Linked DNA regions of Homo sapiens: regions 2 and 3 are each linked to region 1. The links come from fine-mapping of genetic effects on gene expression. A gene starts in region 1. Each other region holds a variant in brackets. All regions are shown on one strand. Distances are between the middles of the regions.

Evidence for each region. PIP is the estimated chance that this variant, and not a neighbour inherited with it, causes the effect.
Region 2: its variant is the best candidate, but not a certain one, in a credible set for the expression of DNAAF9 in lung (TOPMed, PIP 0.67).
Region 3: its variant is the best candidate, but not a certain one, in a credible set for the expression of DNAAF9 in monocytes (Quach 2016, PIP 0.83).

What each region holds. Positions count from the first base shown.
Region 1 is chr20:3,401,763-3,412,277 of GRCh38, reverse strand. It overlaps DNAAF9 (dynein axonemal assembly factor 9), which reads left to right and starts at 4,609. Exons shown (of 37, transcript NM_001009984.3): 1 at 4,609-4,803. The coding sequence starts at 4,721. RefSeq lists enhancers at 3,208-3,709, 4,086-4,285 and silencers at 4,276-4,525, 4,566-4,805, 4,866-4,945.
Region 2 is chr20:3,239,930-3,250,444 of GRCh38, reverse strand. DNAAF9 (dynein axonemal assembly factor 9) reads left to right here. Exons shown (of 37, transcript NM_001009984.3): 37 at 1-1,139. Among named protein-coding and RNA genes, the nearest start is that of SLC4A11, 6.0 kb to the right of the region's middle. RefSeq lists enhancers at 1-162, 822-1,566, 1,567-2,312. The variant A/G (reference allele first, on the strand shown) is at 6,398.
Region 3 is chr20:3,425,861-3,436,375 of GRCh38, reverse strand. LOC105372508 (a long non-coding RNA gene) reads left to right here and starts at 5,520. Exons shown (of 3, transcript XR_937212.3): 1 at 5,520-5,622. The variant G/A (reference allele first, on the strand shown) is at 5,454.

The sequences.
Region 1 (10,515 bases):
GGTAGCGGTATGTTCAAAGAGTGACTTGAGCTGAATGATGACAACAGACAGTATGGGAGGCCATTACAACTTTGCTGTGATTATCTTCTCAATCTGAATTTATCTTTAAAATTTGTCATTTTATCCATTCCTTTGGTACAAAAATCACACATCTTTTATGCTTAGCCGTTAGTATGTGCTGATGTATATCTGTCTTTCCACCATTTTCAATATTGAATAAATACTTGCATACCACATAAAGAGCTGCAAATGGATTTTCTCTCCTTTAATAAATGTACACTCTTCAGAAAATTTGTCATAAAATTCACTCTTGCAATTTGGCATTTGTGGATTCACATATACACAAATAAAGAAATAGATAACACAATCGATTTTCAACAAGGGTACCAAGACAATTCAATGGGGAAAAAAATAGTCTGTTCAACAAATGGTGCTGAGACAAGTGAATAGCCACATGGAAAAGAATCAAGTTGGATCCCTGCCTCACATCATATAGAAAAATTAATTTGGAATTAATCAAAGATCTAAAATGTAAGAGCCAAAATTATTAAACTCTTAGAAGAAAATGTAAGAGGTACGTCTTCATGACTTTGGATTAGGCAATAGTTTCCTAGTTATGACACATAGAGCACAAGCAACAAAAGAAAAAAATTGATAAACTGGATATCATTAAAATTTTAAAGTTTTGTGTTTCAAACAACAATATCAAGAATGTGAAAAGACAACCCACAGAATGGGATAAAATTTTTGCAAATTGTATTTCTGATAAGGTACTTATATCTAGACTATATAAAGAGCTACCACAACATAATAAAAGGACAAGTAACCAAGTAAAAATGGTCAAAAAATTCGAGCAGACATTCCTCCAAAGAAGAGGTATAGGCCAGGCACGGCGGCTCATGCCTGTAATCCCAGCACTTTGTGAGGCTGAGGTGGGCAGATCACCTGAGGTCGGGAGTTTGAGATCAGCCTGACCAACATGGAGAAACCCCGTCTCTACTAAAAATACAAAATTAGCTGGGCGCGGTGGCGCATGCCTGTAATCCCAGCTACTCGGGAGGCTGAGGCAGGAGAATCGCTTGAACCCGGGAGGCAGAGGTTGCGTTGAGCTGAGATCATGCCATTGCACTCCAGCCTGGGCAACAAGAGTGAAACTCCGTCTCAAAAAAAAAAAAAAAAAAAAAAAAAGGAGGAGGTCCAAATGGCTAATAAGCACATGAAGAGATGCTTGACATCATTAGCTATCAGGAAATATAAGCCAAAACCACAATGAGATACCACTTCATACCCTCTAAAATGGCTATAGTGAAAAAGATAATGAGTATTAGGGAAGATATGGAAAAATTAGAACCCACATATGATGCTGGTGAGAATATAAATGGTGCAGCCACTTTGGAAAACCGTTTGGCAGTTCCTCAAAAGGTTAAACGTAGAGTTACCATGTGATCCAGAAACCCACTCCTAGATCGCCAAGGAAACAAACTGTGTGTCCACAAAAAAACTTGTACACAAATGTTAATAATAGCATTAGCTACAAAACATAGCAAAACAGTGGAAACAATCTGACTGTTCATTAACAGATAAATGGATAAGCAAGATGTGGTATATCCATTCAATGTAATAATATTCAACCATGAAAAGGAACAAAATTCTGATACATGCTGCAACATGGATGAACCTTATAAACATTATGCTAAATGGAAGAAGCCAGTCATGAAAAACCATATATTGAATGATGCTGATAACATGAAATGTCCAGAATAGGCAAATTAAAAGGTTAGTGGTTGCCTAGGGCTGGGGTGGTTGGGAAGAAATGGAGGAATGACTGCTAATAGGTACAGGATTTTCCTGTTGGAGTGATAAAAATGTTCTAAAATTGATTGTGGTGGTGGTTGCACAAATCTGTGCCTATACTCATTGATTTTTTTTTTTTTTTTTGAGACAGGGTCTCACTCAGTCCCCCATGCTGGAGTGCAGTGGCCTGATCTTAACTCACTGCATCCTAGACCTCCCAGGCTCAAGCGATCCTCCCATCTCAGTCTCCTGAATAGCTGCGACTACAGACACATGCCACTATGCCTGGCCAATTTGTGTGTGTGTGCATATATGAAATATATTTGTATACATAAATTATAATATAAATATATATTTTTATAAATAAACTATATATATATAGAGAGAGAGAGACAGAGAGATGAGGTTTTGCCACGTTGCCCAGGCTGGTCTCAAACTCTTGGGCTCAAGAAATCCACTTGTCTTAGTCTCCCAAATTGCTGGGACTGCAGGCGTGCACCACCACGTGTAGCCCCGTTGAATTGTTTTTAGAGCTGATTTTCAGAGCTTTTGCACCGATGGGAAGTTATCTCTAAATAATGGTGGTTACTTGTTCATGACTCTGGACTTGAGCTAAAAAATTGATCACTGCAAGCATAGAAAGAATTGAAAGAGTTGTATTTGATAAATCTCATGACGGTGTCATAGCGTCTGTCATAAGTCCAAACTCATACCAAATAGTAACTGGGAATTGAATCTTGAGCTGTGAACTTTGAACTCGGACAAAACAATAAATTGAACTCAATATCTGATGCAAAAAAAAAGTGAATTTCTTCTCTGCTTGCAAGGGAGAGCGGTACTTGTAAGGTACAGCCTCTCTGAACAAAGCCAGAGCTGATCTTATAAAAGGTTTTGAAGGCCGGGCGCGGCTCACGCCTGTAATACCAGCACTTTGGGAGGCCAAGGCTGGCGATTCACTTGAGGCCAGGAGTTCAAGACCAGCCTGGCCAACATGGCGAAACTCTGTCTCTACTAAAAATACAAAAAATTAGCCAGGCTTGGTGGCACAGGCCTGTAATCCCAGCTACTTGGGAAGCTGAGGCACAAGAATCGCTTGAACCAGGAGGCAGAGGTTGCAGTGATCTGAGATCACGCCACTGCACTCCAGCCTGAGCAACAGAGTGCGACTCTGTCTCCAAAAAAAAAGGAGAAAAAGAAAAAAAAGGCCGGGCGCGATGGCTCAGGCCTGTAATCCCAGCACTTTGGGAGGCCAAGGCAGGCGGATCAACTGAGGTCAGGAGTTTGAGACCAGTCTGGCCAACATGGCAAAACCCGTCTCTACTAAAAATACAAAAATGAGCCAGGCGTGGTGGCGGGAGCCTGTAATCCCAGCTACTCGGTAGGCTGAGGTAGGAGAATCGCTTGAACCGGGAGGCAGAGGTTGCAGTGAGCCGAGATCGCGCCACTGCACTCCAGCCTGGGCGACAGAATGAGACTCAGTCTGGGAAAGAAAAAAAAATGGTTTTGGAAATATTCGCCTTCAGGGATTGGCTGTCTTTCCGAATCAGAAGTGGAGTGCGGCAGCTGAGTACCCACTGACTTTCGGAAGCCTGGTCGCTGGTGTCAGGCACTTGTTGATTGGCTATTGTCGGAGGCTTAGAGCGGTCACTGATTGGCTGACTTTCAGAAGCGTGGGGTTGTCATTGATTTACTAAGAAGCATAGTTACCGGAGTGAGGCTATCGCTGATTGGCTGATTTTCAGAGCTGCTGCACCGACGAGAAGTTATCTCTAAATAATGGTGGTTATTTGTTCACGACTCCGGACTTGAGCTAAAAAAGTATTTTCCTTTCTTGAATATGAAAGACGAGCACTTTAAATTCCTACTCCCTTCTGGTCTTCCCTCAGCCAAACCTGAAGGAGACACCATAGGGATTGTCCAAATCTTCATTAGTGTAGGAAGGATTTTCAGCCAGTGTTGTAATTTAAGTGATCTAGCACCAATTACTGTGGGAGAAAAATAGCTCTAATTATTGCAATTTAGTGTAAAAAGATGAATACAGGACATTTAAGGCATTCCGACGAGGTCAACGAAGGACGCAGGCCAATAATCATTAAATACGTCCTGTATATACAGGACTCCTGGCAACTATCAGTGCAGTATTTCCCAAGTTTCTTGTACATGTCCCTGCAGAAACCGGTAGAGCTAGGATCTTAACAGTAAAGGTTAGGGGTCTTCTGGGATCCTGTGCGCCTCTAACGCTCATGCCCTGCGCAGGGCTGGGTGCGCACTGCTGCGCTAACCCGAGGCCGGCTAGGAATCTATTGGATGTTTGAAGGGTGGGTGCGGAATTGATGACCAGGAAGCGGGAAGACACCGTTCCGGAGAACAGGGAAGCGAGCCGGGTACTGGGGAGGTGCGCTGGGTACTGGGGAGGTGCGCTGGATCCTGACGCCGGAGCGGAAGACTTCGCTGGAGGCCGGGGCTGGTCGGGCGGGGCGGGGCGGGCAGAGGCGGAGGGGCGGGGCCGGGCTGGGAGAGGCTCCGCCCCCGGGCGCGTCCGTGTGCGTGGCCGGGGGGCGCCGCGCAGAGCCCCGCTCTATGATGCCGGGCTTGAGGACGAGGCCGGGCGGCGCTGTGGCAACCCTCACCCTGCGGACACGCGCTCCCAACATCCGGTCCGGCGGCCTCGCAGCTTAAGAAGTGGGGTCCCTGTGGCCGTGCGCCGACCCCCAACTCCAGCCGCTCCCAACGCCCCCATCCGCTCTCGGTGCGCGCGCCCCCTCCACGCCCCCGCCCCCGCCCCCGCCGGGCCCGCGCGCCGCGCCCCCTCCCACCCGGCACGCCCTGCCGCCCCGCCCGGCCGCAGCTAGCGTGGAGCCGCCCTGCGGGCAACTGAGACCCTCGCAGCTGCACCGTCCTCCTCCGCCGCCAGTCGTCCGCCGCCATGGACGTGTACCCCCCGCGCCGGCAGGGGCTGCCCCGCGCTCGGTCCCCTGGCGGCTCCAGCCGCGGGTCACCCTCCGTCAGGTACGCGGGGCAGAGGCAGCCGAGGGGCGGCCGGGCGGGGGATGCGGGCTGTCGGGGTCCGGCGACGCCTCCCGCCGCAGGGCGTGGTCCGACATGGCTTCCTCGGGACGGTTCTTTGCTGAACGGCTCAGGGAGGAATTTTTCCCAGGAACGGCGCCCTCTGTAGAGGCCCCACAATGGCTCCCCTTTGGACAACCCCGCAACGGTTTCCCCACAATGGCTCCCCCACAGACAACCCTGCAACGGTTTCCCCACAATGGCTTCCCTAGGGACAGCGATTCCCTGTGAAGACACTGTTATGACGTCCTCACCCCCATAGAACGTTTCTCCCAGGAAGGATTCTTCTACACAGAACCCCACAGAGGCTTCCCTATGAATAACTCACTCGCCTTCCCCAGGGAATGTTTCCCTCAGAAACTGCTACTCTACAGACCTCACACCTCCACACACACAATAGCTCCCTCGTGTAGAACCCCCAAATGGATTACCTAGAAAGCCCCCTCCCGTGGGTCTCTAGAGCCTTTGCCCTTGACAACGGCTTCCTTAAAGAGTGTCCCCCGCCCCCTACGTACATAATGACAGCATCTCCCCTGTCGCGCGTTTCCCCAGCTCCCCCTGCCTCAGCCTGCATCGCGACGCCCCCTCACTCCACAATAGGGAGCTCGGGTTGGGAGGAAGTAGAGGTATTAGGGACGCAGGAGGAAAAACTGGATAAATAGGGGAAAGAGGCCTAGAACCTCCGAAAGCGGCGGACGCCAGGCCCCTTACCGTAGAGACACAGTCCCAAGCTACCTCAGTATGGGGAGGGGGTGATCGTGGGGAGCGTTCCCCGCCCCCTTTAGATATAGGAAGATCCGTTTCCGATTTCTGTGCCCTATGCGTTTGGTGCTGATCTTGTTGGTCTGGGCATTGTTTGTGATGGAGCTGGTGTGGGGCGCCGGCGCAGTGTGGAGGTTGGAATGATGGAGGGGTTGCAGCAGAGACCTTTGAGAAGGAGAGGGAGAGGGGGAATGCGAGCGATGAGCTTTGGTACTGCTAAACTGTCATTAAAACAGGAGAGGGTTTTGTTGTTGTTTGCTTTTTCTTATTCTAGCCACATAGCAAAGCAAATATATTGTTCCCTTGAAAGGAGGTTGCCAATCTACATGTTAAAACAGTTTTCTTATATTCTTGTTATGGTACTTAAGGCATATGTTTTAACTTTGCTTGCTGATCTGATTTTTGGGGTTGTTTGTTTGCTTTAACTAGACCAAATTATTGGAGAACAAGAAACTGATTCTTAGAAACCTGTTTCTTTTTTACTTCCCTGCATTCCTTTCCACAACCCAGAATCCAGTATATGTTTGTTGAACAAATAAAGGATAGAGAAGGTGGGGGGTAGATACCAATGAAACATTGCATTTAGGAGTCCTAAATTGCTTCGAATCTGTCAGGTGACATTTTTGAACTCCTGCTCTGCCCTTCAGTGTAATTCCTTGTGGGCTTTACAGTTCCAAGTTTAACTGCTTATAGTAACGCATCTCCAATCCTTTGCAACATTTCTGCCAGTTTCACTGTCTGAAGCAGAAAGTATTTGAACTTGTATAGACATTGCATAGGATACTTTAGAACAGCCATCCGTTAAATCTAGGCTCTGTGTGGACTTGAGGTTTATCCCAGATCATCTTGAGCTTAGGAATTTGGATTTGAGTCTGTTGAGATCTTTAGGGGGAAAAAAATCATCTCTACCTTAGAATCTGTCTCTTAAATGCTGCCTTTCTTGTTTTTAGTAGCATGGCCATGTGCTTTTTATTTATTCTTTTAAAGGTAGTGATTCTATGTTCAAAGAAGTATGCTGGCTCACTTTACTGATCATACCCGAACTCCAAATCTTCTATCAAGTGGTTTGAATAAAATTTGATTTCAGACAAGGAATAGTGCAAGGAACCCCAAGGCCTAGCTGCCCCCAATACCTTTGGTGAAAGAAATTTGCTGAAGGCTTCCCTCCTTTCCCCACTTCTACATGATTGAACGTGCTTTTCTTGCCCATTCAAGCCTTTCCCTTACTCTTGACATTGAATGTTACTAGCACTTTCCTGTCACCCATATATGGCTTTGCTGCTGACTGCTGAGTGATGGAAGGGGCAAACCTAACTGGTGAAGTGACATTCCTAAGACCCATAGATAGTACTCTGCAAGTGTATGGTTCTAGCACGGTAGTTCATTTTCACAGATGGAGAATGGAGATCAAGAATTAAAATATTGTTACTCAGAATGAGAGGCTTCTCTTTAAGCATGTGATAGTCATCAGTCTTACCAGGTATTTTTGGTTTCTGTCTCTTGAGCATGTAGTAGAATTTTACTTGCTTGCTTCTTTGAAGTTAGGTATGGCCTTAAGAGTTGCTTTTGGTCAGTGAAATGCGTGGGAATACTGTGTAGCCTTTCATGGTACAAATTTCTGTTGTGTAGTTTTCCATTCTCTTTCCTTCTGTCATGGTAGCTGTTGGGGCTGCAAATGGCAGCCACCCATCAGTCAAGGCCCCAGAGCTAGCTTCCAGGTGACCTATGCTTGACAGGTAGGTTGAGCAAGAAGTGAAACACCACCGGGATTTTGGACTTATTACCAAGGTATAAACTAACCTATCTGGATCAATGCTAAGGAACCAGTGGAAATCTAGCTGAAAGATACTTTCTACTTCAAAATGTTTTTCTGTAGAGCGATCTGTTCCTGCTTGAAACTTCTTTAATAGTTTAAATTTCACTGTTTATTTATATAAATTATGCAACAAGTACTCTGTTAGGTGCTGTAGAGTCAGATAAATACAGCAGTCCCCTGCCCTCAAATAACTCTTTTGTAAAGGGGAAGAGACAGTAACAGTAGAAATCATAATATAGAATAGTGAGTCATAAGTACTGAGGAAGAAATACGGCCGAAAGAACAATAATACAAGAAGGCCTAGTCGGTTTTTGCCTCAGCTATTGAAAGAATGGAGTTGCCATTTATTAGTATTAAGAACACTAGAAGAAGAAAAGGCAGTGTAGCAGTGTCTTCCAAGTTCTGAGAGAAAATGGTTTCCTACCTCTGAGGTGGGAGAATAATTGAGAACAGACATTGAAAGCCGAATGAGATTGTTGACAGTGTGATGAGAACTAGTAATCAGGCTGGGCACGGTGGCTCACGCCTGTAATCCCAGCACTTTGAGAGGCCAAGGTGGGTGGATCACCTGAGGTCAGGAGTTTGAGACCAGCCTGACCAACATGGTGAAACCCCACCTCTACTAAAAATACACACAAAAAAATTAGCTGGGCATGGTGGCAGGCACCTGTAGTCCCAGCTACTCGGGAGCCTGAGGCAGGAGAATCACCTGAACCTGGGAGGTGGAGGTTGCAGTGAGCCAAGATCTTGCCATTGCACTCCAGTGTGGGCAACAAGAGTGAAACTCCATCTCAAGAAAACAAAAGGACTAATAATAGACAATTAGATTCGATAATGTGGAGGGTCACTAGTGACCTTGACAAGAACAGTTTTGGTGCAGTGGGTTCAAGAGAAAATGAAGCCAGTCACCTGTAGGTCAGCTACTCGGAAGGCTGAGGTGGGAGGATCCCTTGAGTCCAGGAATTCAAGTCCAGTCTGGGCAACATAGCAAGACCCCTGTCTCTAAAAAACATAAATTGATTAATTTACAAAGCAGAAAATGAGAGGAGAATTGAAGACACTGAATATAGACAGTCATATTGATGTTCTTTTGAGGATGGTTATAAGGAGAGTAGAGTAATGGGGCTGTAGTTGGAAGATCATGAGGTGTCGAGTTCTTTTTGTTTTTATATGGGCAGATATTATAGCATGTTTGTAAATTGATGGGCTGATGCAGTAGGGAGGGACAATTGATGATTAAAGAGAAGTGACACTTGCAAGGGTGAAGTCCTTGAGTAGGTAAGATGGAATGGGATCTAGTATGTAAATGGGGATGTTGGCCTCAAGTTAGACAGGAGCAATGCCAACAATTCATTGGTGGCAGATTATGTGAACCCAAATGCTGGTAGCTTGTTGGTGGGAGAAAGTGGAAGTTCTCTTCTGATTACTTCTGTATTCTCAGGTAAATAAGAAGGAAGGTCTTCAGCTAAAAATGAAGAGAGGTGTTGGATTCATCCAAGAGAATGGGGAAGAATGAGTTGAAAATAAGGAAAAGTTTTAGGATTTCCAGGCAGCACCTAGTGCCCATTTGATGTTTGTAGTTGTAAACCTAGGTGAGACCCTACTTAGCATAGTTGTACACTTTTCCTGCAGCTGTGTTGAGCTGCTTGGATGTGGCAATGTGGAAGGGAATAGCTGAAGTAGGATGGAGGACACCACCATTGGAAGTGGGGGAATCAAGGCACTGAGAGGTAAAGATTGTGGTGAAGATTGAGGTTATCATAAATTAACAGAATGACCTAGGGACCTGTAGATGTCTGTAACAGGGAGAGATAGCAGGTAGTTATTGTTTGAAGACATGAAGAAATGATAAAAAAATAAATACATTCCTTAGAACCAAAGGACATACGTTTCCAGATTGAAAAGACTTGCGAAGAATCTAGCACAATGAATTTTAAAATATCCATGCCAGGACCACATGATCTCACTTATATGCGGTAGAATCTAAAAAAGTTGATCTTGGCCCTGGTGGGAGGATTGCTTGAGCCCAGGAGTTTGAGACCAGTCTGGGTAACATGTCGAGACCCCATCTTTACAAAGTTCAAAAAAAGAAAAATTAGCCAGGCGTGGTGGCATGCGCCTGTGATTCCAACTACTCAGGAGGCTGAGATGGGAGGATCATGTGAGCCAAGGAGGTCAAGGCTACAGCGAGCTGCGTTCATGCCACTGCACTCCAGCCTGGGCAACAGAGTGAGATCCTGTGTCAAGAAAAAAAAAAAAAGTTGATCTTATAGAAGTAGAGAGTAGAATGGTGGTAATTAGGATGTAGCGGGGATGGGGAGATGTTGATTGAAGGATATATAATTTTAGTTGGATAGGGGAATTAGTTTAAGAGATCTGTTATACAACATGGTAACTATAGTTAATGATTATATATTCTTGAAAAATGCAAACAGAGTGGATATTAAGTGTACTCATCAAAAAAAAACTATGTGAGGTGATGCATTTGTTAATTAGCTAGATTTAACTTTTCCGCAATGTATATATACTTCAAAACATCAGGTACACAAATACATATATATATCTGTCAATTTAAAATAAAAATATGCATGTCCTGGCATAGCATCATGAAATTTTCTAGCACCATGAAGACAATATCTGTAAGTCACATAGATAGGATCAGGAATGCTAGGATTCTAGCAGGATTGTAAGCTAGAAAGTAGTGGAGCAAAGAGTGCCTTTTGAAGGAAAATAGATTCCCACCCAGAATTCTGCACCCAGCCAAACTCTCAGGCAGGTGTAAGAAAGGATGAAGATATTTCACACATGTAAGTTCTCAAAATTTGACCTCACATGCCCGTTTTATGAAGAAGCTACTGGAGGATGTGCTCTAGCAAAACAGTCTGATTAAGGATTTCCCGTGCTGGCGTCCCTTCTACCATCTTCTATAGAAAGATTCTACAGATCTTTCTGTATCAAAAGGGGGCGGGGGAGCCCTCCCCACGGTCACCCCCTCCCCATACCGAGGTAGCTTGGGTGACATAGGTAGGATTTCTTTATTGTCAAGAGGGTCATTGGGAAGGATCTTCTCTATCACC
Region 2 (10,515 bases), 160 kb after region 1:
CTGTTGATGCTCCTCAGCCTACTCGGGAACGTGAAGGGGCAGCTGGCGAAAGGGCATTCCTGGGGCCACTTGCTCTGCCCCACTGATAAGGCACACCCGCGGTGCACTGTGAGCTCTTTGAGGACTGAGGCCAGGGGATGCCTCCTGGAACCTGCCAGGCCTCTCTGTTCTGTGAAGGTCAGTATCCACTTGATTCCTCCAGGCGGCGCTCCAGGTGGGAGGAGCAGGGTCTTCTGCTGTTTCCAAAGGAATGGCCATGACACTGCTTTTGACCTTAGAAGTGGATCCAGGGACCCAGCAAAGAGCGGGGGTGGGTTCCCAGGGACAGGCAGTCCTCCCGGGGCTTACATGCTTTTTGCTAACTTTCCTATTAGCAGCTTCAGTTTATATCACCCAGAGTGCGTGGGATAATGTTGAAGTCGCTGAAGTTACGGGTTATTTTATGTTTTTACATGGGATTTTTCTGTTTTTGATTGGAAGAAGGAGACAGAAATTGGAGGAAATGGGATTATTATCCTAGGGAAGGGCCGTTGGCAAGGAGTTGAGCCGGCCCCTCTGAGCCCTGGGGGCTATCTGACCTGAAGCCTGGACACTGGGCCCTTCAGGTCGCAAGAAAAAGTTCCCTCCTAAATTCTATTAGGATTTTGGAGAATTTTTGCACAGTAAGAAGCTCTGGGTTGCTCCTTGGGCTTCTCAAAAGGGAAAAGTTCAATTCAAAGATTGTAAACTACGAAGTATTCCAGCCGTGTTGCTGATCTAGTTGGATAGTTGTACCTCAAAAAAGTAGGTGAGAACTGGCTTCCTCATTGTCCCAGGATGTCAAATACTAATGACATAAGAGCTCACTTACGTGCCAAAATTCACTTTTATACTAGTTTTTCAGTGCTTTAATATTTGTAACTTAAATTTTAAAACTCGTATTTACAAACACTACTGTAACTTCAGTGAAACTGAATTGTGCGATTGAAGCTTTTTGCTTATCATAGTATTTATTACACTACTTAATTCAGTAAATATATAAAAGTAGCCTTCAATTTATTTTTATATTATTTTACATGTTTTTACCTGCAGTTGTGTATGTGAATTTACCTTGGTAATCGAGATGTCATGCTAAGGACCAATAAACTATCACTGAACAAGCAAGGCCTCCAGACGATGCCTGTGCCATACACTCAGTCCCGTGTGCTCCTGGGGCGGGGGTGACGGGGGCCGGCCCTCAGCCTCCCCTGGACGCCTCTGGTGGGGATGCTGCGGGAAGTCCTCGGAGCTCACACTCCCTCCCTAGACGCCGGAGCAGCCCGTGGAGAGTAAGAATAAAATTCATCTGAAGAAACCACACTGGCTTGCGGGGTGGGAACTTGGGGAGTCCCAGAACTTGGGGAGGGGCTCAAGGAAGCCGGCTATGGGAACGGGGCTCTCCCGGCCCACCCGTGTCCCTCACCCTCGTCTTAGTCCGCCGTGCACGGGTGCCGGTTCTCGGCCCCAGCCTGCCGCGGCCGAGCTGTAGTAGGAACCACGCCTTTCCAGCCTGATGGGCGCGTTTCCGCGCAGTGAAAGCTTGGCGAGGTGGCTCCTCGGTCCTACTTTATACATGGGGACGACTGGAGGCGCTGACGGGTCAAGTAAGGGCCAGATTTGGCGCTGCGCGTTGGAACCGCAAGTTCTAACGGGGGGGTTTGCCGGAGCCCGCGGAGCTCTAGAGGAGCGACCAGAAAGGCATCAGCTGTCCCCGTGCAAGCTCGGGTTCCACTCGCCAGGCGGTTCCTGCCGCACGTGGCGCGGGCCTCCCACCTGACCACACCCCGGGCCCCCGCTGGCCGCGCAGGGAGGTGAGGAAAAGGGGCGCCCGCCGCCAGTCCATAGACACCCTGCTTCCTGTCAACCAGTCGCTGGGTGGGACAAGGGGAAATGCCCCACTGGGCAGATGTGGAAGCTGGCCCGGGGGAAAGGGTGTAGCCTCCGCAGATAGCTTCAGGTGATTGGGATGGTGGTCTTAGGTTTGGAAGTTCCTTGAGATAAATTAGTCCTGTGCAAACCAAATGCAAATCTGCACGGGAAGGGCCTGGTAGACTTGGGGGAGGGGGCTGGCGGCAGTGTTACCCTTTCACAACCTCTTCCCCAGAGCCTCCGGCATCCCCATCCTGCAGGCCGGGGTTTGAACTTTGATGGAGCGCCTGCGGTTGCATTACGGCAAAACCTCTAGGGTTTGGGGATTAACCCCTAGGAATTGCCAGAACGATGGGGAGACAGTAAATGGTGAAGGGCTCTCAGAGGGACTTAGAGGCCAGGAAACCTGAGGATGGGGAAAGGATCCCATCTTCCACCTGGAGCTCTCAGTAGGGACAGGGGACTACTGAAACCCTAGTGCTGCTTACCAGAGTGGGAGCCCCAGAGTCAGGGAATCCTGGCAGAGTCGATTGTGAAAAGTGATTTAGAGCAGATCTCATGTGGAGCTGCTGAAAATCAGAGAGCCCGCCAAGGAACACAGAGAAACACCAGTGTTAATCTCTATCCTACACTCTAGGGAAAAGTTATACCCAAAGAAGACATGACCATGTGACCCACTTCCAGCCCATGACAGAAAGAGATCAGCTTGGTTTCTGCAGGAGTCCAGACTAGTACCAGCTACAGGTCAGCCAGGCGCAGGCACTAGTATGTCATCAGAACCCTCTATCTTCGGTGGCTTCATTCTTCCCCTGCAGCAAGCTTCCCTTACACCACCAGCAGCACCAGGGTCCCATAGGCAAGGATCACATTCTCATCCCTGAATAATTACCATGGTCAGGAGGAATGGAGTTTTCTGATTAGCCTGGCCTTGGGTCTCCATACCAGGCCCATCTGAGAGGTGGGCCCCCCACAGAACGGCTTGCTCCCCTAAACCAGCATTACGCATCTCCCTGCAGTTTCTGAGCTTTTCTGATAAGTCAGACACCTACTTGATTTTTATTATTATTATTTTTTTTTTTGGATACAGTCTCGCTCTGTCGCCCAGGCTGGAGTGCAGCAGCGAGATCTCGGCTCACTGCAACCTCCACCCCCTGGGTTCAAGAGATTCTGCTGCCTCAGCCTCCCGGGTAGCTGGGATTATAGGCACATGCCACCACACCCAACTTTTTTTTTTTTTTTTTGTATTTTTACTAGAGGAGGGGTTTCACTATGTTGAGAAGGCTGGTCTTGAACTCCTGACTTCAAGTGATCCACCAGCCTTAGCCTCCCAAACTGCTGGGATTACAGGCATAAGCCACCACACCTGGCTTTTTTTTTTTTTTTTTTTTTTTTTTTTTTAAGACAGAGTCTCACTCTGTTGTCCAGGCTGGAGTGCAGTGGTGCAATTATAGCTCACTGCAGCCTCAACCTCCTGGGGCTCAGGTAATCTCCCATCTCAGCTTCTTGAGTAGCTAGGACTACATGCATGTGCCACCTCACCCAGCTAACCTACATTTTTTTTTTTAAACAGAGTCTCACTCTGTAGCCTAGGCTATAGATCACAGCTCACTGCAGCCTCAACCTCCCTGGGTTCAGGTCATCCTCCCCACTCAGCCTCCCGAATAGCTGGGACTCCAGGTGCACACCACTATGCTGGGCCAAATTTTGCATTTTTTGTAGAGATGTTATCTATGTTGCCCAGGCAGGTTTCAAACTCTTGGGCTCAAGTCATCCTCCTGCCTTGGCCTCCCAAAGTGCTATGTTACAGGAGTAAGCCACTGCACCCAGCCCATTGTTTGGTTTTATAGTGCCTCAGCACAACCCAGGGATACCAGTGATCATGGGATCCTGTCTGAGAATCTATTTTTCTTAAACAAAAGAAAGGTCAAAAAAAAGAAAAAAGAGAAAAAGACAGGTCATGTAGAGCCAGGCACGGTGCCTCACACCTGTAATCCCAGCACTTTGGGAGGCCAAGGCAGGCGCATCACTTGAGGTCAGGAGTTCTAGACCAGCCTGGCCAACATGGTGAAACCCTGTCTCTACTAAAAATACAAAAATTAGCCGGGCGTGGTGGCAGGTGCCTATAATCCTAGCTACTCGCGGGGGCCGAGGCAGGAGAATCACTTGAACCCGGGAGGCGGAGGTTGCAGTGAGGCGAGATCGTGCCATCACACTCCAGCCTGGGCGACAGAGCGAGGTTTCATCTCAAAAAAAAAAAAAAAAAAAAAAAAAACGCCGGAGGTGGTGGCTCACACCTGTAATCCCAGCACTTTGGGAGGCCAAGGTGGGTGGATCACGAGGTCAGGGGTTCAAGACCAGCCTGACCAACATGGTGAAACCCTGTCTCTACTAAAAATACAAAAATTAGCTGGGCGTGGTGGCGGGCACCTGTAATCCCAGCTCCTCAGGAGGCTGAGGCAGGAGAATTGCTTGAACCTGGGAGGTGGAGGTTGCAGTGAGCCTAGATGGTGCCACTGCCCTCCAGCCTGGGTGGCAGAGCGAGACTCCTTCTCAAAAAAAAAAAAAAAAAAGAAGAAAGAAAGGTCATATAGACTGTGATGTGGGGAATGGGCTGCTGCTCCACGTGGGTGGAGGTGAGAAGTGGACCAACTGGAGAGCCATTTTGAAGGAACAATTGACAAGACCATGACTAACTAGGCAACAGCTAAGGAGATGACCTCGAGGTAAAAGTGGAAAAAGCCCAAGTGGAAAAAACCCAACGTTTTGAAACAAATCCAAATACTTTTTTTGTTTCATCTCTAAAAATTTGATGAAAAATAAATTTGTTTATCCACAAATTATTCCTGTTTTTCCCAGGCCTCTGCATTCCTAAATTGACCAGCTAAAAGAGTTTGGTTTTTTAAAAAATTACATCAGATTCAATAAATTTTATGTCCTACTCATAAATGACTGTAAATCTGTAAAATATATTTATATATATATTAACCAAATAAAGTGTGAATAATTTTCATTTTATCCCACAAATTACTACTGCTTTTCCTGCAGCAATAAAGTGTGATTTTTGTTTTCCTCTCATGACTGGACATGTTTAAGAAACTTTTCATCTCTACTCTGAAATTTCATGCCTGGATGAATGTACAAATAGAGAAATAAGGACAACAGGAACTGGAAAGATGGTTTGATAAGATTATTTCAGTTTGAGACAAAATTCATGGAATTTTCTAGCTACGAAAACTCCATTCCAGCTTATTTGTTTTATAGATAACAACGATCAGAGATCTAAAGAGGCTGGAGGTCTTGCTCCAGGGTGTTGCCCTGGGCCTCCCCACCACCTCTCTCTTCCCTGTGCCTCCAAATTCCTGGGAGGAGTTGGGGCTGGAGAGGAGGGTGACCTGGATGGGGTCTCAGGCCACATCAGCCCCCAATGGTGACATCCAGGCCCCTGAGCAGGATGGGGACCAGCGAGGAGAGCCATGGGTGAGGAAGACATGAGGGACACAGATTGGCCAAGGATGGCCAGGAGGTGACAGTCTACCCAGAGAACCTTAGGGTCACCAGGTAGAATTCTTCCTTGGGTAGCAGGTGATGGGATTTTGATGGAGTAGGGCCTGGGGGTAGGTGAGGGTGGGGAAGGAAGCCAGTGTTTGGTTGTGAGAGGCTGGGCTGTGGAGGGCAGAGAGGCCTGACAGGAGGGCAGTGGGGCAGCCCCAGAATCTTCCTGCCCAGTGGTCTGCTGCATGCCTGCCACAAGACCTTGACAGTCTGTATGCCTGGAATTCATGAGCTCTTAGAATCAGTGAGCCAAGAGCCCTAGCCCACTCCTGCCCATGCTAGCTTTGGACTGTGAGTATGGACTGAGGGGCGGGGCAGACAGATGCCATCCTGAGGGTAGCAGGTCCTTGTTGACCCTCTGCAGGGCAGGGGCTCCTTGCCCTCCTGGATGCCCTTATGTTATAGTAGCCTGGATCTTTCTCTCAGTAGGGGTAGATGGCAACTGAGAGAGGGCTTATTGCTGTGTTTGTTGAGCACCAAAGGGTTGTCCTTCCACCTACCCAAGGGGCCGGGAGATGCCCCCCAGGAAAGAGAGGAGGCCAGTGGAGGCTATGTTCCCCCTCCCAGCACCCTGCAGCATTACCAGGACAACCAGTCTCATGCTGGGCTCCCACGGATAGAAAGCAAAAGCTGACGGGACAGGAAGAGTTATGGCGTGGGGGAAGACAGTCTAAACAAAGATTGAGATCTCTTGAAGCCAGGTGTTCAGGACCAGCCTGGGCAACACAGCAAGGCCGTCTTTTCCAAAAATTTTGAAAATAAAAAAATTAGCCAGGCGTGATGACACCTGCTTGTAGTCTCACCTACTTGGGAGGCTGAAGTGGGAGGATGAGTTGAGCCCAGGAGGTCAAGGCTGCAGTGAGCTATGATTGCGCCACTGTAATCCAGCCTGGGTGACAGAGAAAGACCCTGTCTAAAAAAATTAAAAATATTTGGAGGGGAACAGGAGACTGGCATG[A/G]TTGTTGGGGTCCAGTTAGACCACCAGGGAGTATCAGGCAGTTGATTCAGTGGGCAGCTGAGCCCAGTCACTTGGCCTGGTTCAGAGCTGGACATAGGGCTCCCATAAATAACTAACCATTACAGATGACAAGTCCTCAATCATAGAGAGAGAGCGTGGGAACAGCACCTCTCCTCCCCAGGAACAGCGAGGAGGCGGAGCAGCTGCAGCTGGAGAAGGGCTACCAGAGGCTGAGAACACCGGTCAAGGCAGCGGGAGCCCCAAGAGGCTGGTAAAATCCCAGTGACTTCAGAGAGAGCGGCTGGCTGCGAGGTATGGGAAGCCATGCCTGCCAAGGGTCCAAGGAAGGCTATGGCAGCCAGGATGCTGCAGACCCGAGGTAGAAATAAAAGGACTCAGCTGAGTGCCGTGGCTCACACCTGTAATCGCAATTTGGGAGGCCGAAGTGCGCAGATTGCGGGAACCTGGGAGGTTGAGGCTGCAGTGAGCAGTGGTCTCACCACTGCACTCCAGCCTGGGCGACACAGCAAGCCCCTGTCTTAATGAATAAATAAATATAAAAAAATAAAAATAAGGCTGGGCACGGTGGCTCACACCTGTAATCCCAGCACTTTGGGAGGCTGAGGTGGGAAGATCGCTTGAGCCCAGGAGCTTGAGACCAGCCTGGGCAACATGGTGAGATCCCCATCTCTACAAAAATTAAAAAAAAAAAAATGCCAGGCACAGTGGCTCATGCCTGTAATCCCAGCACTTTGGGAGGCCGAGGCAGTGGATCACCTCAGGCCAGGAGTTCAAGACCAGCCTAGCCAACATGGCAAAACCCCCTCTACCAAAAATACAAAAATTAGCCAGGCATGGCAGGCGGATCATGAGGTCAGGAAATTGAGACCATCCTGGCTAACAGGGTGAAATCCCATCTCTACTAAAAGTACAAAAAATTAGCCGGGCATGGTGGCTGGTGCCTGTAGTCCCAGCTACTCGGGAGGCTGAGGCAGGAGAATGGCGTGAACCCAGGAGGTGGAGCTTGCAGTGAGCCGAGATGGCGCCGCTGCACTCCAGCCTGGGCAACAGTGCAAAACTGTTTCAAAAAAAAAAAAAAAAAAAAAATTAGCCAGGCATGGTGGTGCATGACTGTAATCCCAGCTCCTGGGGAGGCTGAGGCGGGAGAATCACTTGAACCTGGGAGACGGAGGTTGCAGTAAGCCAAGATTGCATCGCTGCACTCCAGCCTGTGAGACAGAGTGAGACCCCATTTCTCTCAAAAAAAAAAAAAAAAAAAATTAGCCAGGCACAGTGGTGCACACCTGTAGTCCCAGCTGATGTGGGAGGATCGCCTGAGGCCAGGAGATCGAGGCTACAGTGAGCCGTGTTTGTGCCACTGCACTCCAGCCTGGGTGGCAGAGTGAGACTCTGCCTCAACAAAATAAAAATCAAAGAAATAAAATGACTCAGTGAAATGTGGCCATCCAGGGTGAGAGGAAGGAGGCAGAGGGGAGTCGGGAGTATCTGGCTGGGATGCCCATTAGGCTAGACCAGAAAGCCTGAGTGGAATGGAGGATGGAGGATGGAGAAGAGAGCTTCGGGAGGGCGTCATAGGCCTGAAATGCCTCCATGGAGATATCTGCCTTTAACATTCCTTTGGGTTTTTTGTTTGTTTTGAGATGGGTGGGTCTCCCTATGTTGCCCAAGCTGGTCTCAACACTCCTGGGCTCAAGGGATCCTCCCATCTCATCCTCCCTAGTAGCTGGGATTATAGGTATGTGCCACCGCACCTGGTTTACTTTTTGTTTTTTGTTTTGTTTTGTTTGTTTGTTTTTGAGATGGAGTCTCAGCAGTTTCAGTGGTGTGGTGGGGACAAAAGACAGGTATGAGTCGGTTGAAGAGACATAGCGGGAGGGGCATGGAGCTCTGGAGAAACTTCCTCTTAAATGTAGCTGAGGGATAAGGCAGCACCCGGAGGGCAAGGGGCTTTAAGGGAAATTTTTTTTTTTTTTTTTTTGAGATGGAGTCTCGCTCCGTCGCCTGGGCTGGAGTGCAGTGGCACGATCTCGGATCACTGCAACTTCCACCTGCCGGGTTCAAGCAACTCTCCTGCCTCAGCTTCCCGAGTAGCTGGGACTACAGGCATGCGCCTCTATGCCCAGCTAATTTTTTTGTATTTTTAGTAGAGAGGGGGTTTTAGCATGTTGGTTTGCCAGGATGATCTCCATCTCTGGACTTTGTGATCTGCCCACTTCGGCCTCCCAAAGTGCTGGGATTACAGGCGTGAGCCACCGCGCCCGGCCGGGGAATGTTTTGTTTTTAAAATGAGCCCTTTTTTTTTTGAGATAGGGTTTCTCTCTGTCACCACGGCTGGAGTGCAGTGATGCAGTCTTGGCTCACTGCAGCCTTGACCTCCCTGGCTCAAACAATTCTCCCACACCAGCCTGCTGAGTGGCTGGGACCACAGGCGTATGCCACCATGCCTGGCTAAGTTTTTGTAATTTTAGTAGAGACGGGGTTTCACCGTGTTGCCCAGGCTGGTCTCGAATTCCTGAGCTTGAGCAATCCTCTCACTTCTGCCTCCCGAAGTGCTGGGATTACAGGTGTGAGCCACCAAGCCCGGCCTAAAAATGAGATGTTATACATTTACTTCAGACCCCAGATTCTACAATCCACAGGCAAGATAAGTGGCATCAGGGGAGGACAGCAGAAAACTGTTAAGTGCGCCTTGTGGAACCCAGCGGTTACAGTTTCAAGTCCACAGCCCAGTAAAGTCTGAGACCCCAAGGGAGGGAATGAGAGGGAAAGTGGGTGCCTGCGTCTGGGTCCCTCAACCTGCCTGCCTATGTAAGGACCCAGTGGGGCACAGGACAGGAGATCTGGGGCACCAGTATTTGCCTTCAGCGTCAGACGATCTACACAGGACAGGAGGCAGGTGGGAGGACTGAAGGAAACAGCCTCTGAAACGGTCAGTCTGGAGGCAGCAGGCGTGTGGGCCTCAGGGGTTCCCTCCAGGAAGGCCGAGGGAACAGAACCGCAGGGGCAGAGCACAGGTGTAGCAGAGAAGGGCTCAGTGCCAGTTCCTTTGAGAGACGGTCAGGGAGCGGACAGAGGGGGCCCATAGCCGACTAGGGGCGGCTTGGTCATGGGCTCCTCTTTCCTCAGTGGGCTGAGGGGTTAGGTCCTTTGAGGAGCGCTGAGGAGACTGTGGTAAGGGGAAGCGCCCTCCATCCCAGAGGCTTTCCTGGAACAAGTGGGTTGGAAGGACCAGGTGTTTGGGAGCTGCTGGGAGCAGGTGCAGAAGCCAAGGCATTCCCAGATGGGGGAGACTGGGGGTGGCAAGGTGGCTTTTCAGGGATCCAGCCTGCATGCCACCTATGCAGCCATGCTCCGGGGGCGACATCCGCCTGTGTCCTTCAGCTCTTCCTCAGCCTCCACCCGCCACCCGGGAGTCAGTGCCTGGACTGGAGCTCTAGCTGGAGGGCGTCTAGGAAAGGTCCCAAGGGGTGCGCAGGATGACCTGGTGTCTCTCCAGAGTCACCCCTGCTAAAATACTATGTGGCCAGCCCCAAGTCAGTTGCAGGTCATGGTGTTGGGATCTTCCACAAGGCCTCCTGGAGTCGCGCTGGGGGAGGGTGGGGTACTCAGTCTGTCGCAGAGCCCCAGGCCATCCGTCGCCAAGAGGAGCACTCCAGCGCTTCCCTCCTAATGCGTTCTTATCTTGCCGGGAGGAGAACTGGGCCAGCCTTACTCACCCAATCTATGCATGAGGCTTCCCCAACGCGCCAGAAGCCCTTCCTTCGCAGAGGTGGGCTTGCCCCGGCCTGTCCCCGTTCCTCTACCATGGTTAGGGCACAGTGGCCGAGGACTCCGTCCCAGCGCGGCTGAGCCGGAAAGCGATGGCGGCCGGAGGGGTCGGGAGGTTGGTTAGCGCTTTACGGAGCTGCGTGTTCCGTTTCCAAGGGCTGTAGAGCCTTCTACTGGGAGCCACCGTGGATCAGGCCAGGGGTTCGTCAGCTGCATTTGCCGGATCGCATCGCAGCACGCGCACCCACACGCGCACACGCCCTACTCGCAGGAGACTAAGCGCCCCGAAAAGGCGCGTCCCCGGGCGGGTCGCAGCCGGTCCAGGAAAG
Region 3 (10,515 bases), 24 kb before region 1:
GTGTTCAGCAAGAGTGACAGTGTGCACTTGTGTGCTTTATACACTCCCTTGATCCAGGTCTTTTCCTGACTATATCAACACTTGGTTCCAAATAGCAAAGAGCTCTCCATCTTTGGGGATAGAAGCAAACTGTTCCTATTACTCAGAAAAACCATTGCTGTAATGTTGCAAGAATTAATAGGTATCTTGTCTGCTATAGTCTTCCCAAGGCAGGAAAAAAACCATAAGCATCTCCTTTCCAGCCCTGACCTCTCCATTTCTTCCTCACCCCCTTCCACCTCCAGAAGATGCATCTTCGTTTGCTGGCATTCTGGCCTTCTTTGCCTCAGAGGATGCCCTTGTCAAGTTCTAGCTGTATTGCCTGGTGGGTGTGAAACCACTCTTAACATAAACTCCTCAGCTGGTCCTTGGCAAGGGCTTTTCCTCAACTTTTCAGATTTAGTGGGTGTTTCAGATTTTAGTTTAGTGGTAGTTATATATGCAGAATCCCAGGCCCCACTGGAGGAGAGGGAGAAGGTGGCTTGCAATCTACATTTTTATGGAGGCCCTCATGTCAAAATCTGGGACAATCTCAGCCTCATATGAATAATGCAGGAATGGATTATTATATATTGAATCAAAAGGAATCCATGTGTCTCTATTGATATTAACACCAAAAATTTTGGCCTGTGCTCACACCTGTAATCGCAGCACTTTGGGAGGCCAAAGCAGGAGTATCAGTTGAGCCCAAGAGTTCGAGGTTACAGTGAGCTATGATCATGTCACTGTACTTCAACCTGGGTAACAGAGAGAGACTCTGTCTCAAAACAACAACCACCACAATAAATAAATAAAACAACCAACAATGGTATTTTATTTTATTATTATTTTTCTTAATAGAGACAAGATCCTGCTATGTTGCCCAGGCTGGTCTCGAACTTATGGGCTCAAGCAATCCTCCCACCTCAGCCTCCCAAAATGTTGGGATTACAGGCGTGAGCCACTGCACCTGGCCAACACCAAAAATTTTAAAGGGGGTAGAAAAGAGGGCCAGGTGAGGTGGCTCACACCCGTAATCCCAGCACTTTGGGAGGCTGAGGTGGGTGGATCACTTGAGGTCAGGAGTTCAAGACCAGCCTGGCCAACATGGCAAAAACCCATCTCTACTAAAAATACAAAAATTAGCCAGGCGTCCTGATGCCCATCTGTAATCACAGCCACTTGGGAGGCTGAGGCAGGAGAATTGCTTGAACTTGGAAGTCAGAGGTTGCAGTGAACCAAGATGGCATCACTGCACTCCAGACTGGGCAAGAAAGTGAGACTCCATCTCAAAAAAAAAAAAGAAAAGAAAGCTCTTCTTCATAAAAGAATGCCAAATTGTGAATGTAGATGGAATGATAGAAATGGAAAAATCATCATTTTATGACCAGTCTATTAATAATTGATTCAGGCAGGCATCATCAATGGAATGTAAAACTATTAGGATAAAGGGGGTTGGGAAAAATGATATTCATAAGGTTTGAATGTATCACCCTACAGGCTGTTTAGTAATCGCAAAAGGGAAAACGTATCTTTACCACAGAGAGAGCTGAAGGTCACCACGTTGACCATCAGATTACACTTAGCATCACCATCAACGTGAAAATTGACTGGTGTGTTGCACTGAGAAGACACAACATCACTTAATGTTTCTACCAATAATCTAAACCCAGATTTATTTTTAAGAAAATCAGGTTGGCCAGGTGCGGTGCCTTATGCCTGTAATCCCAGCTACCTGGGGAGGCAGGAGAACCGCTTGAACCCATGAGGCAGAGGTTGCAGTGAGCCGAGGTTGCGCCACTACACTCCAGTCTGGGCCACAGAGCGAGACTCCGTCTCAAAAAAAAAAAGAAAGAAAGAAAGAAAGAAAATCAGGCCGTTATGATGTCATCTTGATTTTAAATACAAAGGCTTAGTCAGTGCACATGATCAACACTTTGAACTTTCAGTTCCCTTCTACCACAGCCTCCTATATGTTCTAGAAGTGTCTAAGGGAGACTCTTGTGCAGTGCTCTCAGAATCTTCCATTCTCCCTCTGGAAATGTCACCTGCCAGGCCTCTGTTGTATGAAAAGAGTTAGCATGGCCTCTTATGTTTTTGCAAAGTGCTTCCAATGCCAAGGTTACTCTATGCTGAAATATGCCTTGAAGCCACTTTCTTACATTATGATCCCAAAGGGACCACTTTAGACTTCCAGCATCTCACCAAGATTTTTATGTGACCATCATCCAGTTTATGTCATTAGTCCTTAGGACTGAGAAGTGGGTCCAGGGTGGCTTACAGGGGAAAGTGGCTTAGTCAGTATTGTCTTGCTGGTCTTGCTCTCTGGGGCATGGGATTCTTATTCCAAGCACCCATCCAGTCACGTAGCTCACGCTGGAACTCTCATCAGCCCATTGATATCTTGGAGTTTAACACAAGGAAGTATTGCACAAGACAAGCCAGAGACCCATGGACATAATGGCTGCCAAAGCAGAGAAGGGGAGGTGACAGATTTAGGAGACAGCAGCCGCCCTCACCCTCACTGTCCTCTCTGTTCCTCCTCTTTCCTTGGAAAACAGGCCTTCCTGGGGACCTCCTGCTCCCCTCAGTTATCCAGACTCTACCTGTCTTTTGTTTATACTAATGATAGCATGCTAGGTACAGTGTTCTCCATCTTGCTTTTTTCATTTAATATTTTTTTTTTTGAGACAGGATCTTGTTCTGTCACCAGGGCTGGGGTGCAATGGCACCAACACAACCCACTGTAGCCTCGACCTCCCAGGCTCAAGCAATTCTCTTGCCTCAACCTCCTGAGCAGCTGGGATTATAGGTATGTGACACCATGCCCAGCTATTTTTTAAAAAATTTTTTGTAGAGACAGGGTCTTGTTATGTTGATGAGGCTGGTCTTGAACTCCTGGGCTCAAGCAATCCATGTGCCTTGGCCTCCCAAAGTACTGGGATTACAGGTGTGAGCCACTACACTCAGCTCAACATTTTTTATATGTACAATTTGTTCATATCCTTTATCTTTGTCTTTTATATCTTTAAGAGAACTCTTTACCACCTTTTTAGTGAGGTTTCTGGAGAGGGTGGAAATGAGTATTTTCTATCCACCACAAGGTTTCCTTGGAGTTTACAAGTATATGTTGATATCCCCTGAAAATCTAGATAATTTTGTCTCCTCTTTTCCAATTCCATACTTCAAATCTTTAAAGATTTAAAGACTAGGTGTAGTGGCTCACACCTGTAATTCCAACTCTGTGAGAGGATCACTTGAGCCCAGGAGGTCAAGGTTGCAATGAGCCGTGATCATGCCACTGCATTCCAGCCTGGGTGACAGAACAAGACCTTGTCTCAAAAAGCAAGCAAGCAGGCAAACAAACAAACAAAACACGCTTATTATGGAAAAGAAGGGGGCAGAAGCCAAACTAGGGAGAGGAAGAAGTTAAACTGTGATGCAGGCCTAATAAAGCTTCAGCCAACACGGCAGGGAGTTTTTGAGTGAGAATTGCTCATTAAAGTGTCCCATGTTGACCCCAAAGAGGGAGGTCTTTATGCCTCCACCCGACTCAGTCATTGCACACTGGCTACCTTTGGAGGGACTGACCACATTCTCTGCAGCCAGGCAGCAAGTTCTTCCCTGAAGGGAGATCTGGGCCGCATATCTCTATGTCTATCACAACTTATCCATTCCATCAAGGTGGTGGGGAGGATTTGATATATTGCAGGGGATAAGCAAAGAGGAATTTTTTTTTTTGCAGCTTTGGACATTCACAATGGAGTTTTACTGCAAATCAATAGGCTCCAAAGCAAGATGTTGTCAAGAGGAAAATCGTTTTCTAAATTCCTTTAGTTTTCATTTGACATATGAAGACTCTGAGGTTGGAGCATTTCTTCCATAGTGTGCTTTCAAAACCTAGGCCTAGGCCTGAGGGTATGATGGAGAAGAAAATGAGGGAGAGGTAGCAGAGAATGACTATGGAATACATGGGCCCTAGTCTCTCTGTTCTAGACTGAATCATGAAGAAGCAGAGGTAGTTTGATAATTCAACTGGGCTTCAAGGGCAGGAGGCATTTGATCTATTCCATATTTGGGATTCTGGAAGGAGGCCACCATGTAGAATGGCCCTGCTTGAATCCAGTTAAGAGTAATGTGCAGAATGGTTAAGCAGGGTTACAGCCTCGACTGGCCTCCTGTTATGATCCTTGGTAGAGCAAATGCTGAGAGTCAGTAGGTCTGTCCTGGGGCCGCAGAGGGTGCTGAGTGGACTGATCAGCATGGACGGGAACAGAGGGGGCAGAACCAGGACTCAGAGGTGTCCACAAGGCAAGCGAAAGCCAATGAGAGGCTAAGTCATCAGACCCAGCTCAAACAGAAAAAGATGGATCTCCTCAGTGACAGACGTCAGCAAGTAGGAGCTAGACACATAAACCCACCTCTCCTTGTTCATCCAGACACCCTCTGAAAATGGGACAAGTATAAAAACCCAAAGATCTGAGTATTTGTTTGTTTATTTATTTATTTGAGACAGAGTCTCGCTCTGTCGCCCAGGCTGGAGTGCAGTGGCGCAGTCTCGGCTCACTGCAAGCTCCACCTCCTGGGTTCACACCATTCTCCTGCCTCAGCCTCCCGAGTAGCTGGGACTACAGGCACTGGCCACCACACCCAGCTAATTTTTTGTATTTTTAGTAGAGACGGGGTTTCACCGTGTTAGCCAGGATGGTCCCGATCTCCTGACCTCGTGATCCACCCGCCTCGGCCTCCCAAAGTGCTGGGATTACAGGCATGAGCCACCGCGTCTGGCCCTGAGTATTTATTTTTAAAAGACTCTACTAGTCATGCTTCTCCTGCATAACTACATCGAAATAAAAGGACTTACAACAAGCGTTGATTCTCTACTCATAGGTTGCAGGTTCAGCTGTGGGGCTCTGGCTTCAACTAGAATCAGCTGGGCTTGGCTCAAGGCTGTGAGCGGGATTCAAGTCCACTCCACAAGTCTTCTCATTCTAGGACCGGCAGTGACTGTGACATGCTCTTTATATAACAGAAGATGGGATTACAAGAGCCAAACCAAACCACGCAGGCACATTTTTAGCCTTGGCTCACATCACATCCACTAACATTCCATGGGCCAAAGTCAGTCTTAGAGCTAAGTTCAAAGTCAATGGGGTGGAAATGAATAATGTATATCAGGGAGGGAGTGAAGAATTGGGAACAATATCCAATCTACCACAGAGACTAGGCATTACCTAAAGGACTGACCAAATTTTAGCATTAGACTACGGTCGTTGGACAGGACTGAAACTTACTTTTTTTGCCTTGCTACCCAGTAACTGCGGACTTGTCTTGGGTCATGTTCTCTAGAAGCAGAGCCCAAGATGGGGATTCTTGTGTACATAATTTATGAAGAGTATGTTCTCAAGAGGAACATGTCAAGAAGTGAGACAAGT[G/A]TAGAAAATAGGAAGGAAGGGAGCAGGAATGAATCATATATATCAGGGAGGGAGTGAAGAATGTGGTTTCAGCTGGAATCTAGTCTGATCACGCAGGAAATTGGAATAAGAATTGTACTCCAGGGATGTCTCCCTTGAGTCAAGAGCTGGGCTTTTTGACCTTCTGTTGGTAAGTCATTGGCTGTCTTCCTCTCCCCTAGAACAGGTGTAACCTCCCCGACATTTCTTGGTAAGGTGACAGACAGCTGTAGACCAAGAACAGTTCTCTGGAGAAAGGGGAAGTTGTGATCCGAGAGCAACTAAAATTCACAACAGCTGGGGGTTGACACCCTGGCTGGTTAAGGCCATCTGGACAGGATGGCCTTAACACCAACAGACCGGTACCAGTCTGTGGCCTGTTAGGAAACGGGCCACACAGCAGGAGGTGAGTGTCAGGCGAGCGAGCATTACCGCCTGAGCTCCACCTCCTGTCGGCGGCATAGATTCTCATAGGAGTGCAAACCCTATTATGAACCGCGCATGAGAGAGATCTAGGTTGCGTGCTGTTTATGAGAATCTAATACCTGATGATCTGTCACTGTCTCCCATCACCCCCAGATGGGACCGTCTAGTTGCAGGAAAACAAGCTCAGGGCTCCCACTGATTCTACATTATGATGGGTCGTATAATTATTTCATTATATATTTCAATGTAATAATAATAGAAGTACAGTGCACAATAAACGTAATGTAATGTACTTGGATCATCCTGAAACCATCCCCCCACCCTGGTCTGTGGAAAAACTGTCCTCCAGGAAACCGATCCCTGGTGCTAAAAAGGTTAGGGACTTCTGTGCTATATATATGGCTCGTGAAAGACCAGACCAAAATTAAAGTACACACCCACAGCAAATACTGCTATTTCCTAATATCCATTCTTTCGTACTTTTTTTTTTTAATTATTTTTTTGAGACAGAGTCTCTCTCTGTCACCCAGGCTGGAGTGCAGTGGTGCTATCTCCACTCACTACAACCTCTGCCTCCCAGATTCAAGCGATTCTCCTGCCTCAGCCTTCCAAGTAGCTGGGATTACAGGTGCCCACCACCACACCCAGCTAATTTTTGTATTTTTAGTAGAGATGGGGTTTTGCCATGTTGGCCAGGCTGGTCGCAAACTCCTGACCTCGAGTGATCCGACTGTCTCTGCCTTCCAAAGTGCCAGGATTACAGGCACCCGCCGCCACACCCAGCTAATTTTTGTATTGTTAGTAGAGGTGGGGTTTTGCCATGTTGGCCAGGCTGGTCTCGAACTCCTGACCTCAAGTGATCCACCCATCTCAGCGTCCCAAAGTGCTGGGATTATGGGCGTGAGCCACTGTGCCCGGTCATTTCTCTCCTTCTTGTACCCAGAAGAAAAACAAACAAGATAGTTTAGCTGTCCAGAATCAAAACTACCTTTCTCAGACTCCCTTCTAACTAAGCAGGGCCATACATTTAGGTTCTAGACACCAGATGAAGGCAGACATATCACATGGAAGCTTCCGGGAATCTTCCTTAAGAGACAGCTGGTGTTACTCTTTGCCCCTTCTTTTCCCTTTCCTTCATCCTGCCGGCTTGAATGCAGGTGTAATGGCTGGGGCAGGAACGAAACTGTGAGGCGATCTGGAGAGTGAAGGCCAAAAGGGCCACAGTTCAAAGGGGGTCTGGTTCTGAGGTCACTGTGAACCCCAGTCACCACGCCTTCAACATGGAAAGGTACAATCTTCTACCTGCGTCAAATTACTGTTAATTAACTCTTACAAGGTAAAACTTATTCAGAGTAATGTAATCCTAACCAATCCAATATTTGAGACAGATTGAAAGTGAGTTTAAGAATGTGCTGCATATATTTTACCAAAACACCCTTTCGCAAAATTGTACCCATTTATACTCCATTTAGTAGATAGCAGTGTTCATTTCTCCACATTAGTTATTATTATTTTTTTTGGTTGGGTCAATTTTGTTTGTTTGTTTTCGGTGGAGTCTCACTCTGTTGCCCAGGCTGGAGTGCAGAACTCGGCTCACTGCAATCTCCGCCTCCTGGTTTCAAGCAATTCTCCTGCCTCAGCCTCCCAGGTAGCTGGGACTACAGGCATGAGCCACCATGCACAGCTAATATATATATATATATATTTTTTTTTTTTGGTATTTTTAGTAGAGACAGGGTTTCACCATGTTGGCCAGGCTGGTGTTGAACTCCTGACTTCAGGTGATCCACCCGCCTTGGCCAAAATGCTGGGATTAGAGGCGTGAGCCACCACGCCCGGCCTGGTTGGGTCAACTTAATAAGCAAAAAGGCAGCTCACTGCTGTTTCCATTTTCCTTCTCCTGGTGTCTAGTTAGGTTGTATGTATTTTCCTCTCTTCCTGAGCCATCTGTATTTCTTCCTCTATAAATTTATTAGGGAAACAGGAGCATAGGGGAGCCAGGGTGACACCGTTTAAAAATCAAATCCATTTTAAAACTAGCAAAGTACGGCTGTAATCCCAGCACTTTGGGAGGCTGAGGCGGGTGGATCACCTGAAGTCAGGAGTTCAACATCAGCCTGGCCAACATGATGAAACTCCGTCGCTACTAAAAATACAAAAATTAGCCAGACACTGTGGCGCACGCCCATAATCACAGCTACTCGTGACCAGCCTGGCTAACATGGCAAAACCCCAACTCTATTAAAAATACAAAAATTATCCGGGTGTGGTGGTGGGCGCCCGGCCGGTGGTCATAAGATGTTTACAGTTGAGGAAACAGCTTAAAAACGCTTTAAAATGGGCAGGGCGCAGTGGCTCAGGCCTGTAATCCAAGCACTTTGTGAGGCCTAGGCGGGCGGATCAAGAGGTCAATAGATCGAGACCATCCTATCCAACATAGTAAAACACCGTCTCTACCAAACATACAAAAATTAGCTGGGCATGGTGGCGTGCGCCTGTAGTCCCAGCTACTCAGGAGGCTGAGGCAGGAGAATTGCTTGAACCCAGGAGGCAGAGGTGGCAGTGAGCTGAGATTGCACCACTGCACTCCAACCTGGTGACAGAGAGAGACTCCGTCTCAAAAAAAAAAAAAGAAAGAAAGAAAGCTTTAAAATGCCTCGAATCACTGCAGCCTCGACCTCCTGGGCTCCAACTATCCTCCTGAGCATCTGGGACCACAGGCACATGCCACCATGCCAAGCTAATTTTGTATTTTTTTGCAAGGACAAACTCCTGCAATGGCAGAATGTACACACGTCCCAATATCACATAACAATATATTTTTTTAAGTGATGCACTAAAATGCCAAGGATAGCCTTCTTTAAATCAGCAAAGTACTAAATTTTGTCATGCTGTCAGCCCACCTGCACGTAACCATAATTTAGTTTACCTTTTACATAGACAAGACTCCTATATAAGAAGAGGTTAAAAGTAAGCACGTTCCTCCTGTTTCCTGAGAACCCCCAATTCTGTAAGAGTAGCTTTTAACAAATGGTCTTTTCTCACTGTCCTCTACAACTCACCCTGAATTCTTTCCCGCATGAGATCCAAGAACCCTCTCTTGGGGTCTGGATCAAGACCCTTTTTTAGCAACAAATTAGCTTTTTGTATCATTTGGCCATTTTTGATGGGGGTGTTTATATTTTTGTAGTGATTTAGAAGTACTCCTTTATTTGAAAAAGTTTAAATATGCTGATAAGAAAAAAGGCCAATATAACAAACACCTGGGTACCAATCATCCAAATGAACAAATGTTGATATTTTTGTCATATTTGTATCAAACCTGTTTTTAAGGAAATAAAAATTGAGGCCAGACATGGTGGCTCACGTCTGTAATCCCAACATGTTGGGAGGCTGAGATGGGAGGACTGCTTGAGCCCAGGAGTTCAAGACCAGCCTGGACAACATAGCAAGACTCCATCTCTACAAAAATTTTAAAAACTAGCCAGGTGTGGTGGTGCACACATGTAGTCCAAGCTGCTCGGAAGGCTGAGGTGAGAGGATTGTTTGAGTCTGGGAGGTTGCAGCTTCGGCGAGCTATGATTATACCACTGCACTCCAGCCTGGGCAACAGAGCAAGACCCTGTCTCTTAAAAACATTAATAAATAAAATTTAAATAATAAAAAATTGCAGATGAAAATGTACTTACTGAGTTCACCTTCCCAGTCTGAACAACCACTCATGGTTTTTATACCTTTGCTATGTACATAGTATTGTTTTGGTTATGTTTATTTTAATTTATATTAATGGTGTCAAATTATAAATATTCTTTTGTAGCTCATTAAACCCTGTGTTTCTAAGATTCAACCATATTCATTCATTTTAATTGTATAATATTACCTTGTATAACTCTTCCATGTTTGGTTTATGTTTCACATTTGAGACCCCCTTGATGGATATTAAATCCCTGCCCCCTGCCCCGCCCGCTCCCCACCAGTTTCACTATTACAAAGAACATGGATAAACATCTTTGGTTTTACTTCACATGTTTCCATATGCAAGAGCTTCTTTTTTTTTGAGACAGTATCTCAATCTGTCGCCCAAGCTAGAGTGCAGTGGCACAATCACAGATCACTGCAGTCTCGACCTCCTGGGCTCCAACTATCCTCCTGAGCACCTGGGACCACAGGCACATGTCACCACGCCAAGCTAATTTTGTATTTTTTTGCAGAGATAAGATTTCCTGATGTTACCCAGGCTAGTCTCGAACTGCTGACCTCAAGCAATCTGCCTGCCTTGGCCTCTCAAAGTGCTGGGGTTACAGGCGTGAGCCACCATGCCCAGCTGAGAGTTTCTTTGGACGTGGAATTTCTGGGTTTTAGGGACATATATGTATCTTTTTAATTTTTTTTTGAGACAGGGTCTTGCTATGTTTCCTAGGCTGCTAGTCTCTAGCAGCTCTCTAACTCTGGGCTCAAGCAATCCTCCTGCCTCAGCATCCCAAAATGCTAGGATTATGGGCATGAGCCACCATATCCAGCCAATGTATCTTCTACTTCACATATTATAAAATTGCTGTCCAAAGCGGTTATACCAATTTATACTTTCCACAGAAGTGTATGAGAGTTCCCATTCCAT